Linked DNA regions of Homo sapiens: all the other regions are reported to be linked to region 2. Evidence: microRNA targets listed by miRTarBase, many of them from high-throughput screens and not tested one by one. Region 2 holds a microRNA gene; each other region holds the end of a gene's coding sequence.
What was found. Region 2 holds the annotated microRNA hsa-miR-4322 (CUGUGGGCUCAGCGCGUGGGG, at 1,707-1,727, opposite strand). A microRNA usually pairs through its seed, bases 2 to 8, with sites in the 3' UTR of a target mRNA and lowers its output. Matches are read on the target gene's strand: a 7mer-m8 pairs with bases 2 to 8, a 7mer-A1 pairs with bases 2 to 7 and ends in A, and an 8mer does both.

Region 1: miRTarBase lists KLHL12 as a target of hsa-miR-4322. Seed matches in the 3' UTR shown: 7mer-A1 at 2,187-2,193.
Region 3: the mRNA of PTPRJ is a reported target of hsa-miR-4322. Seed matches in the 3' UTR shown: 7mer-m8 at 709-715.

Annotation. Positions count from the first base shown.
Region 1 is chr1:202,889,811-202,892,810 of GRCh38, forward strand. It overlaps KLHL12 (kelch like family member 12), which reads right to left. Exons shown (of 12, transcript NM_021633.4): 12 at 1,310-2,849. The coding sequence ends at 2,723. Among named protein-coding and RNA genes, the nearest start is that of RABIF, 2.2 kb to the left of the region's middle.
Region 2 is chr19:10,228,832-10,232,181 of GRCh38, reverse strand. It overlaps MIR4322 (microRNA 4322), which reads right to left and starts at 1,769; the gene lies at 1,697-1,769. It overlaps S1PR2 (sphingosine-1-phosphate receptor 2), which reads left to right and starts at 851. Exons shown (of 2, transcript NM_004230.4): 1 at 851-978. RefSeq lists enhancers at 297-346, 1,493-2,207, 2,147-2,226, 2,307-2,356 and silencers at 547-1,206, 1,917-1,966.
Region 3 is chr11:48,167,041-48,170,358 of GRCh38, reverse strand. It overlaps PTPRJ (protein tyrosine phosphatase receptor type J), which reads right to left. Exons shown (of 25, transcript NM_002843.4): 25 at 1-3,155. The coding sequence ends at 2,997. Among named protein-coding and RNA genes, the nearest start is that of OR4B1, 48 kb to the left of the region's middle.

The DNA.
Region 1 (3,000 bases), not on the chromosome of region 2:
CAGTATTATATATGAACAAGGGTGAGAACAAATTTAGGAATGGTTAGTAGACCACTGTGGCTGACCCACATTACACGTGGGGAGAAGTGGTAGTAGAGGTAGGTAAGGCAGAGTGGGCCCAGAGCTCCATGGCTTTAATGTCATGCTAAGGAATTTAACATTAATAACATGAACAATGGGAATCTGTGGAATTTTAGGCCAGAAATAACTGTTCGATATTTACTGTCTGCTGTATGTTAAGCACTGTAATGATCCTATCTGTGCTTCAGAAAGATAACCTATGAATAAATAGAGGGGCTAGATTGAAGAGAGGAAAAAGAGTAGAGGTAAGGTATCAGGTAGCTATTACCTCATCAGTCTAGCTCAGAAAGGCCCTGAAGCTAGCAGAGGGAACAAAGATATGGGAATGGACTTGAAACAATTAAAATTGTACAGAACTTAGAAACTAGCTGGATGTCTGTATTGTGATGGGGGTGACACAAAGCAACTGCTGGTTTTCCCAGGTTAGATAACTAAGTAGCTGGTTGCCAGTTATGGGAGCTTAAAAAAATAAGATGAACCACCAAATTAGGGGTATCTCTGTGTATGTATGTGAGCACATGAAAGTGTGTACGATTGTGAAGAGTGAAAAAGGAGCTGTTTTACGTGTTGATTTTTCTGTAGAACATACCATTGTGGCTTCAGTGTATGAACTATTTGTGAAGTTGGTCTGAAACTCATTAGTCAGCACTGAAGACAGCATAGGAGCCATCAGTCCTTCACCCTCCCCTGGATCTCTTCCTGAGATAGGAAAAGTCACGTTTTATAGGCTTTGGTTTAATTAGCATGCACAATCCATCTGCCAAAGTTGGTAGGCATCTTTTAAGGAAAATAACTTCCTCATGTGGCTCCTCCTTCCTTTTGCTCTGGAAGCATCAGGACTGTTTCAGTTTTGCAGGCCTTCCGCATAGCTGTTTATATCACATGCCACAATTCAAAGCAAATGGAAAAAAGGACTGGTGTGACTGAAACCCTGAAATTCAAGCGCGTGCTAAGTGAATTCAAGATCTTTTCTGTATTCCTTTTTCAAGTAACTCCAAGCGTCAGAGGGGCTAATGAATATGGCAAATCAGGTAAATATTTTACTGATGAGAATCTCCAAAGTGTAAAGTGGCTACCTCTTACCTGTGTCTAACATAGAAATAGCGGAACTAGTTGGCAAACACACAAGATGAACAGCTTGAAGAGACAGGAGCTACGGCTGATCCCTACATCTTTCCCTCCCAAATATCTACTAAAGGCAATGTTGGTTAGCCACAAACTCTCGGCATTTGAGACCGTTGATTTTTAATATTTTCTTAAAAAAATACAAAGGAAATTAACTCTGTAGGTCAATACAACTCAGGGAAAGAGGGAAAAATGGAATTTCAGAGCAAAGGTTGTTTAGGTTATCACATTCCCACACTCCTAATACCCACAAAACAAGAATTTCACTCCATGACACAGAGGAACATTGAATGGTAGCTCAGAAATGTTGATAGCTGAGGTACTGAAACTAACAAAAGGATTTTGGTTGTCCTTGATTATTCTGTCCTGTGATGAATAAAATCTACACTAAAGGACAGGTAAGGAAAACTTATAGCAGAAAAAAGACTAGATGTACCAAACACAGCAGTACAAACCACTCCTTGGCAGACATGTGCTTCTAAAAGAATGGGGCAGTAATCAGGTAGCTGAACTACTAGGCTACTGTCACTCCCAGCCCATCCCCAAATAAATAGTGTGGAAGTGTAATAGTGTAGTAGTATTTGATCCAACAAAGAAAGGCTTTCACCCCCATTCAAGGCAAACATTGCCATGGCTAGATGAGCCCTGGCAGGTAATAAGATGACTGTAAAATCACAGGTTCTTCTAGTTTATCCCCAGTTATACTGAACTCCCACATTGATGTCATCTTCTCTCATCCCAACATTTGTTCACTCTTTTATGCTGTCTCCAGTGCGAAAGACCTCGGGGAAATAAAAAGATCCTTCAAATAATATACCCTTCTCAGTCTTCCAGGTTATGTAATACTTCAGTGCTGTTCTAGGTTCACTCACAATCAAATTCAGTTTAATTCACTTAATTCTAACTTCAATTCTGATATACAAATCCTGACCTCCAAAAGAAGTGTCAGATGAGTCTCTCTCTCCCTTGTCCCCAAAGTTTTGTGGGGCTCTCCCTTTTGTTTCCCTCTAGAATGGAACTGTGTTGCCCCTAGCTACCTGTATATGAGAAAATGTAGTTGTTCCTGGAAAAAAAAAAAAAGACTTGGATTTTACCAAGTTTACTTAAACTGGTATCTTTCCAATCATCTAGGCTGGATATTGCCCATATCTAGTAGGCTATACTCACCTTAGTTCTTTGCAACATATGAGGCACAACATACATATAGTACACCAAGCATGTGGTAAGTTAGAAATGACAGGAAAGTGCTCCCCAAAGCAGTGGGAGAGGCAATGTGGTCTCTCACATCCATTCAATGTGCATTCTTTTTCCTGGAATATCTGTTACCCACCCTTCTCAGGAACAAGAACCAGGACGACGGGGAGTATGTGTCAAATAAGTACAATCATCACTGCACTGGTGCCTGTAATCACCCGGTGCACATAGTGAGAAACAGACATTCTGGAAAGGATTTTTGATTCTCCCACTAACTGTCCACTGGACTGGTCACTAGCTCTGGATGGTGCTCCAACAATGGTCACTTCTCGCGGAGAACACAAACACCAGCATCACAGCGCTGGGTTCCCATGGATGTCACGACTTCCCAGCTGTCGATGATAGGGTCATAACATTCAATGCTACTTAGCAGGGAATTACCATCATATCTGAGTGGGAAAGAAGCAAAAGAAAGAAATGAGTCAGCTGCGTGCAGTGGCACGTGCCTGTAATCCCAACTATGCAGGAGGCTGAGGTAAGAGGATTGCTTAAGCCCAGGAGGGAATTTGAGACCAGCCTGGGCAACATGGTGAGACCCTG
Region 2 (3,350 bases):
AGTGTCCCCAGTCCCCCAAGGGAAACAGGGCAGCACCTGAATTCTGGAGGTCCTATCAAGGGAGAGACTGGTCAGGCACAGTGGCTCACGCCTGTCATTCCAGCACTTTGGGAGGCTGAGGCAGTAGGATTGCTTGAATGCAGCAGTTCAAGACCAGCCTGGGCAACACAGCGAGACCCCATCTCTACAAAAAACTGCAAAAAATTAGCCAGGCATGATGGCGCACCTGTAGTCCCAGCTACTCTGGAGGCTGAGGCAGGAGGCTGAGGCTCCCGTGAGCTATGATTGAGCCACCACACTCTGGCCTGGATGACAGAGCAAGACCATGTCTCAAAAAAAGAAAAAAAAAAAGAGATCAATTTTGTCTTTGGGACAGGACATCGCACTTAGTAGGAATTTATTTGTTGGGTGGACACACAGTAGGCACTTAATGCCTATTTGCTGCGTTGACACCTAGTAGGTACTTCCAAGGCTCTTTGTTGAGTCAATAAATGTGACCTCGTGTTTTCTTCCAAGTCCAGGGTCCCAGGGGTAAGCCCAGAGGTAACCTGGGGTTGAAGACAGTTGTTTCAGGTTGAGGCCACCTGGCCAGGAGTACTGTGACGTCACCAGGCTGCGTGACGTTTCGCGCCGGCCGGTTCTCACGGGTGGGGGCTGGGAGGGGCAGAGTGAGAGATCGGGTGGGGGGGGCGGACAAAGGGCCCTCCGTGCAGCTCCTGTCGGCCCCCGCGTGCGCCCCGGCCAGCCGGCCGGTCACATCTGGAATTCATTGCAGCCGCCGCCGGAAAGGGGAGGAGAGGAGGGCGGGGCGAGCGGGGGGCAGAGGCGGCGGCTCTCCGCCCCCCCCTCTGTCCCTCGTCCCAGCCCCGGGACTTAGCCGAGCCCGGCTGGCAACCCCAGCCCCAGCCGCGGCCGCCCTGGGGACGCAGACGCCAAGGCCCCTCCGGCCAGGGCCGGGAGCCGGGCCGGCCTAGCCAGGTGAGCGCGCGTGGCGACAAGGAGGCAGAAAAGGCGGGCCTGGTCCCCTGAGGTCTCGGGATCCGAGCTGAGGGGCCCCAATCGGGGGGCTGGGGCGCGCACGCGCCGCCTGGGTTCCTGCTGCACGGAGCGGGTGGTCACAGTGCGCCCTCTCCAAGAATCCGGGCGGCCCCCACTGCCTCGGCCGCGAACCCGCAGACTGTGCTCCCCGCCTTTCTCAGCGGCAGGAAGTTGGCGCCGGGGAGAAGGCTGAATCCGAGCGCTTTCGACTGGAGTCTTTGGGAGGCAGGACGCCGTGCTCGGGGACCGGGGTCTTGGGGAGTGTGTTTGGGGGGGGGCAACACCCCTCCTGGCTGACTCCGGCTGAGCGAGGGCAAAAGGATGTGCGCGCCGTGGAGCCTCCAAGCCAAGGGGCGGCACCCACGGGGAGGGCGGTCGGACGTCGGGCTTTCTGCCTCGGTTTCCCCAAGTTGTTTGCCTCCTCCGGTCCCCCGGCGGGGGGCGTGGCTTTGTTTTGTAAGGAAAGAGAAAGTGACTGCGTGGCTCAGACGCCTCCTCTTTCAACTCCGGCTCAGGGATGGGTCGTGGGTGAAGGCGCGCGTGGCGCGGACCTCGCGTGGCCCCGAGCCGGGCGGAGCGTCGGAACTCGCCCCCTTCTCAGGCACGGGTTGACTCACCCGGGGATTTCCACCCCCTCCTCTGTCTCTGTCCTTGTCAGATGCTCCGGGCCCCACGCGCTGAGCCCACAGTCCCCCTCGTGGGGCGACACGGCCAGGCGCGGAACTCGCGGTGCAGCTGCTGCTGCGATCTGGTCCCCCACCCCCAGTCTTCCCAGAATCTCGAGGCGGGACCCCTGGCGGGACGGAGAGGAATCCTTCCAGTGCCGCTTGGAGACGTGGGGGCCCCGCGCGTGTGGCGGTCTCGGGGGCGGGGGGGAGAGGAGGCGTGGCTCCCGCGCGAGCGAGCGTGGATACCGCGCATTCCTAAACCAGATAAGGAGGCCGAGAGTGCGGGCCAGCACGGGGTCGGGTCCTGCTGCCATCTCCATGGAGACACGCTGGGCTTTGCCTGGTTGATGGTGGGCGATGGGGGCGCTGCCCGCGGACCAGAGGTGTCTCCAGGCTCCTTTGTTGCTGTTTGGGTCTGGGCTGAGCTTAGGAGTTTCCACCCTTGGGAACCCACTAGGGTCTCCTTTGTTCATTGGTTCATTCATTCATTCATTCATTTGCCCATTCCACACGTTTTCTGAGTGTTTTATTTGTGCCAGGCATCCCTGTAGGGGCTGATAACTGACTTGCTCCCTGGCCTTAGGCATTGACTGTCTAGGTGGAAGCCAGACAGAAAAGGAAAGATATCATGATAGTTTCCCATAGTGGCAAGCGCTGTGCAGATAATAAAACGAGATTCTGTGATTAGAAAAGGCTTGGAGATGGCTGCTATTGTAGACTGGGGGTCAGGGGAGTCCCCTCTGAGGAAGTGACCTTTAAATAGAAAGGTCACTTTCTATAAGGTAGGGTGGCTACCACGGGCTCCATGGGTGACCAGGGGGAACTGTAACCACAGGGCCTGCCTTTCTGAAAGATGGGGAGACAGTCATTCAAAGATTTGAGGAAAGGCCAGGCGTGGTGGCTCACGCCTGTAATCCCAGCACTTTCCTAGGCTTAGGCAGGTGAATCACCTGAAGTCAGGAGTTCCAGACCAGCCTGGCCAACATGGTGAAACCCCATCTCTACTAAAAATACAAAAATTAGCCAGGTGTGGTGGTAGGCACCTATAATCCCAGCTACTCAGGAGGCTGAGGCAGGAGAATCGCTTGAACTCAGGAGGCAGAGGTTGTGGTGAGCCGAGATCACACCACTGCACTCTAGCCTGGGCAACAGAGTGAGACTCTGTCTCAAAAAAAAAAAATTTTTTTTTTGAGAAAAAGAGTGTGCCCCAAGAAGAACAGCAGGGGTAAAGGCTTGGAGGTAGGGGTAGGGGTAGCATGGAGGAGGTTTAGTGTGGTTGGAGTGGAATGGCCCTGGGGGAAGAGTGGGAGGAGGCTTCATCGGCAGGGGCCATCCTACTTGGGCTATAGGGAGCCATGGAAGAATTTGGAGTTGGGGAGTGACATGGAGTTACAAGTTTAAAAGCTCCCCCTGGCTGCTTGGTAGAGAATGGCAGGGTAGGGGGTCCTGACAACCACAGAGAAACCAAAAGGTAGGGTGGCTACCACGGGCTCCATGGGTGACCAGGGGGAACTGTAACCACAGGGCCTGCCTTTCTGGAACTGGGAGTGGGTGGAGAGGACCTTGGAAGCCACTGAGGCTTCCTCCATCCTTCCCCTCTCCTAATCTCCAGACAAACAGTCGTCTGAGTCTATCTCTCTTCCC
Region 3 (3,318 bases), not on the chromosome of region 2:
AGTCTGGCTGGAGGTCACAGTATGGCTGCAGTGGGCAGACACCAAATGTCATTTCCTGCTGGTGCTGATCATCACTAGATCCAACTTTGGAGGCAAAAAGTCGTTGTTCCTGGGAGATGCTATCAATGGCCCAAATCCCCCAAACCAGCTGGCCACCAGTCTTTGGCCCTTTCATTGACACCCAAACCCATACCAGCTGCTTTTCTGTATGCAATTGTCAAAGACTGAACAGGGGTGCTCACACCATCCCCCCGATTCCACTGGACTCTTCCAATTTGAGCTCATTGTTCCTGGGAGGGGTTGAAGCTCAGAGGCACCCTCCTCTTGCCTCTGACCAACCCCCAGCCTGTGTGTCCTTTATATTTACACATTAATCTTCCCTTTTCAAGCACTGTGCTATAAATACCCTTACCACCCCCACTGGCCCTGTCCCCAGCCCTTTTCAGGATGCAGAGAAGCATCGTGACCTTCGTGTGACCTGCCCATTTGGAATCCCAGACCGCTCCCCCGCAAGAGTTCCTCCCATGATTGCTGGGGCCGCTTGCCCATTTCCCAAGCCCACACCAGGCGGAAGGGAAGAGGGTTCCTGTGTTTTTCATTTTTATACAATATGTTTACAGTTATGTTGCTTTAATCTTTTAAAGTATTTAACCTTTTAAAGGATTTTTTAGCAACAAGTCCCTTCCTCTGACTTCTCTGTGGCAGTGATGTGGGCAGAGCAGGGCTTAGGAGCTCCCTGGGATTTGCCACCCATCACAATGGTTTCGGACATATTGGAGGGGAGAGGGCCACAGCCCACAGAACTGCTGCCTGAACAGGGACCTATGAATGAAGTACCGACCGCTCCGAGATCTGTATGAGTTGGAGGCAGGCCAGTGTGAAGGTGTGGGAGGAATCCGCCCACACCCAGCTTCATACAGCACCCTGAGGACAATGTGGCTTCCCTGATTCACACCTACTGAGCCAAGGCCCCCTCTGAAGTTAGGTCAAGAGGGCCCACCCTAGCCGGGCCAACTCATTCCTTTGAGGACCTGATACTCAATGAACTGCTTACTACCAAAAAAATGCAAAGGATTCAGCAAAAAGTGCAATTTCCATTTGAGAAGTAAGATTCTCCCCAAAACATGACACCACCTTTTCATCCTTTCAGTACCTCAAAGGGAAAGGGAAATAAAAGGCATACAGCACTAACCCTCCGAACCACAGCCGGGGCTTTAAAAGTGTGGTTCACCCTTTAGAACCCTAAAAGACCCATTAACACGTCCAGTCAGTTATCGAAGTGCCAGTGAGGTGAGGGGCGTGGCAGAGTCAGGAGGGACCAGGAGGCTGGAAGAGCCCGCTCACATTCTCAACAGGACACACCTGTCCTGTTTACAGCAGGACACATTACTGTGGCAACAGCCACAGGACTCCAGGGACTTGGTTATTCCTTCATAAAACCTTGTCAACTTCATTGCCTATTGGAGGATAAACTCAAAACATCTTCAAAATATAACCTGAGCCACAATATAAAATAAAAAGAAAAAATCTTTTCATGTTAATGCCTTAAGAAGTTTACAGATTATGTACCAATAAAATAAATCCACATAAATTTGAAATTCTTGGTGGATACACACCTGAAGCAAAAAAAAAAAAATTAATCTACATTTTAAAAATCAAAGTAATTACAGCAGCAGTATAGTGAAAAGGTTTTAAAAATAATAATTACATCTTTGATACAAATTCAAACTTTGTACACCTCAATTCATAGGAATGACTGTTTTTGAGAGCTTAGTGTATATATATATATATATATATATATATATATATATATATATATATATACACAGTAGATTCCGATATGTGTCACGGCAGAGAGAGACGAAAGCCAGTGGACTTTGGGGAAGGAGGGATTAATCTGACACTGAATTCACGCTGAAGTGTTCACAGATTGCCACGCTTCTGAACATACACACACACATACAGACACAGACACATAAAATGCCAACCTGAGTAAAACGTTACTAAAAACCTAGAACATCATGAATCACTAATTCACATATTGCACCTTTAAATAATCCTTCATACCAAATACAGACATGAGAAAAAGGATAATACAGGGACAAGAAAAGGATTTCTGCCACTGTAGGATTCCTCTGCTTCTCCCATTCCCACCCACAGAAATTCTCAAGGTGATATTTGAGTCGCCATTCTCACCCAACCAATGGGTTGAAAATGTTGCCAACAGAAGAGTCTTTGGAGAAAACTGGGAGGGAAAAGGGAAGAAAAAATGGAGCACAAATGTACAGGGGGCAGGGGAAGCGGAGTCGGGGCAAAGAGGCCTCCCCTGATCAAATGAGAACAGAAATGTTACTGAGGAAGCAAACCTCTGATGCTAAGCTACTGTTTAAATATTCCGTATATTCCAATTATGAGATTCAGTACAAAAATATAGATCTCTACTGAGTTTTGCCTGTGGAAGCATAATTCAGAAAAGGCACATGTTCAAATAGAAAACCCATTCGGAAGAGGTGCCACGTACCCCTCCCTGCGCAATCATCATCCACAATTAGGTATTTTCCATCGGCTAGATTCCAAGACACAGTAGGTAAAAATAGACCTCTGATACTTAAAATATATTCAACCCAACACAATCCTGGCTTTAGCATGTGAATCATATAAAATAGTCTTTTTTAAAAAAGAAATTGTTTTGGAAAAAAAAATCATAGCTCCCTTTTCCTGGTTTTCCACAATCCTCAAGGGGGAAAAAAAAAAAAAGTGACCTCATCCCATTGGTCATCAGGAATGCAGATGATTTGCTCCCCACCCATCCACAGCCCCCGACAGCCCCAATTTGTCATCTATCATATGCAGCTTCATGCCCTCAAAATTAGTTCTCACAAAACAGAACAAAGAATTAAGATATTAGACATATAAAAACATGTCGACATCGGGGCATGTGCCTTCGCTGTGGGTGCGACGGTCTGGTTCACTCCAGAAAGGTTATTCCTTTGGAATTAGGCGATGTAACCATTGGTCTTTCCAAATGTGGTCACGGGCGCAAGGTTTTCATAGATTGTCATTGCAGTTGTGTTCTGGTAGATAAGATCTACTTTTGAGTCTTTCTGGGATCTGACAATATCCAAAACACACTGATTGAGGAAAACATACTGGTCCTGATAGAAAAACGAAAGAGAGAGACAGAAAATGAACATGGGTCCCAGAAATTAGCACCCAAAATTATTTTCAAACAGGTCATTCCCCCGCCCAACTCCCAAACCCCATCCACCCAACAGCAAACGGTTCAAGCGAACATGTTTCAAGAGGTAACAACATTGC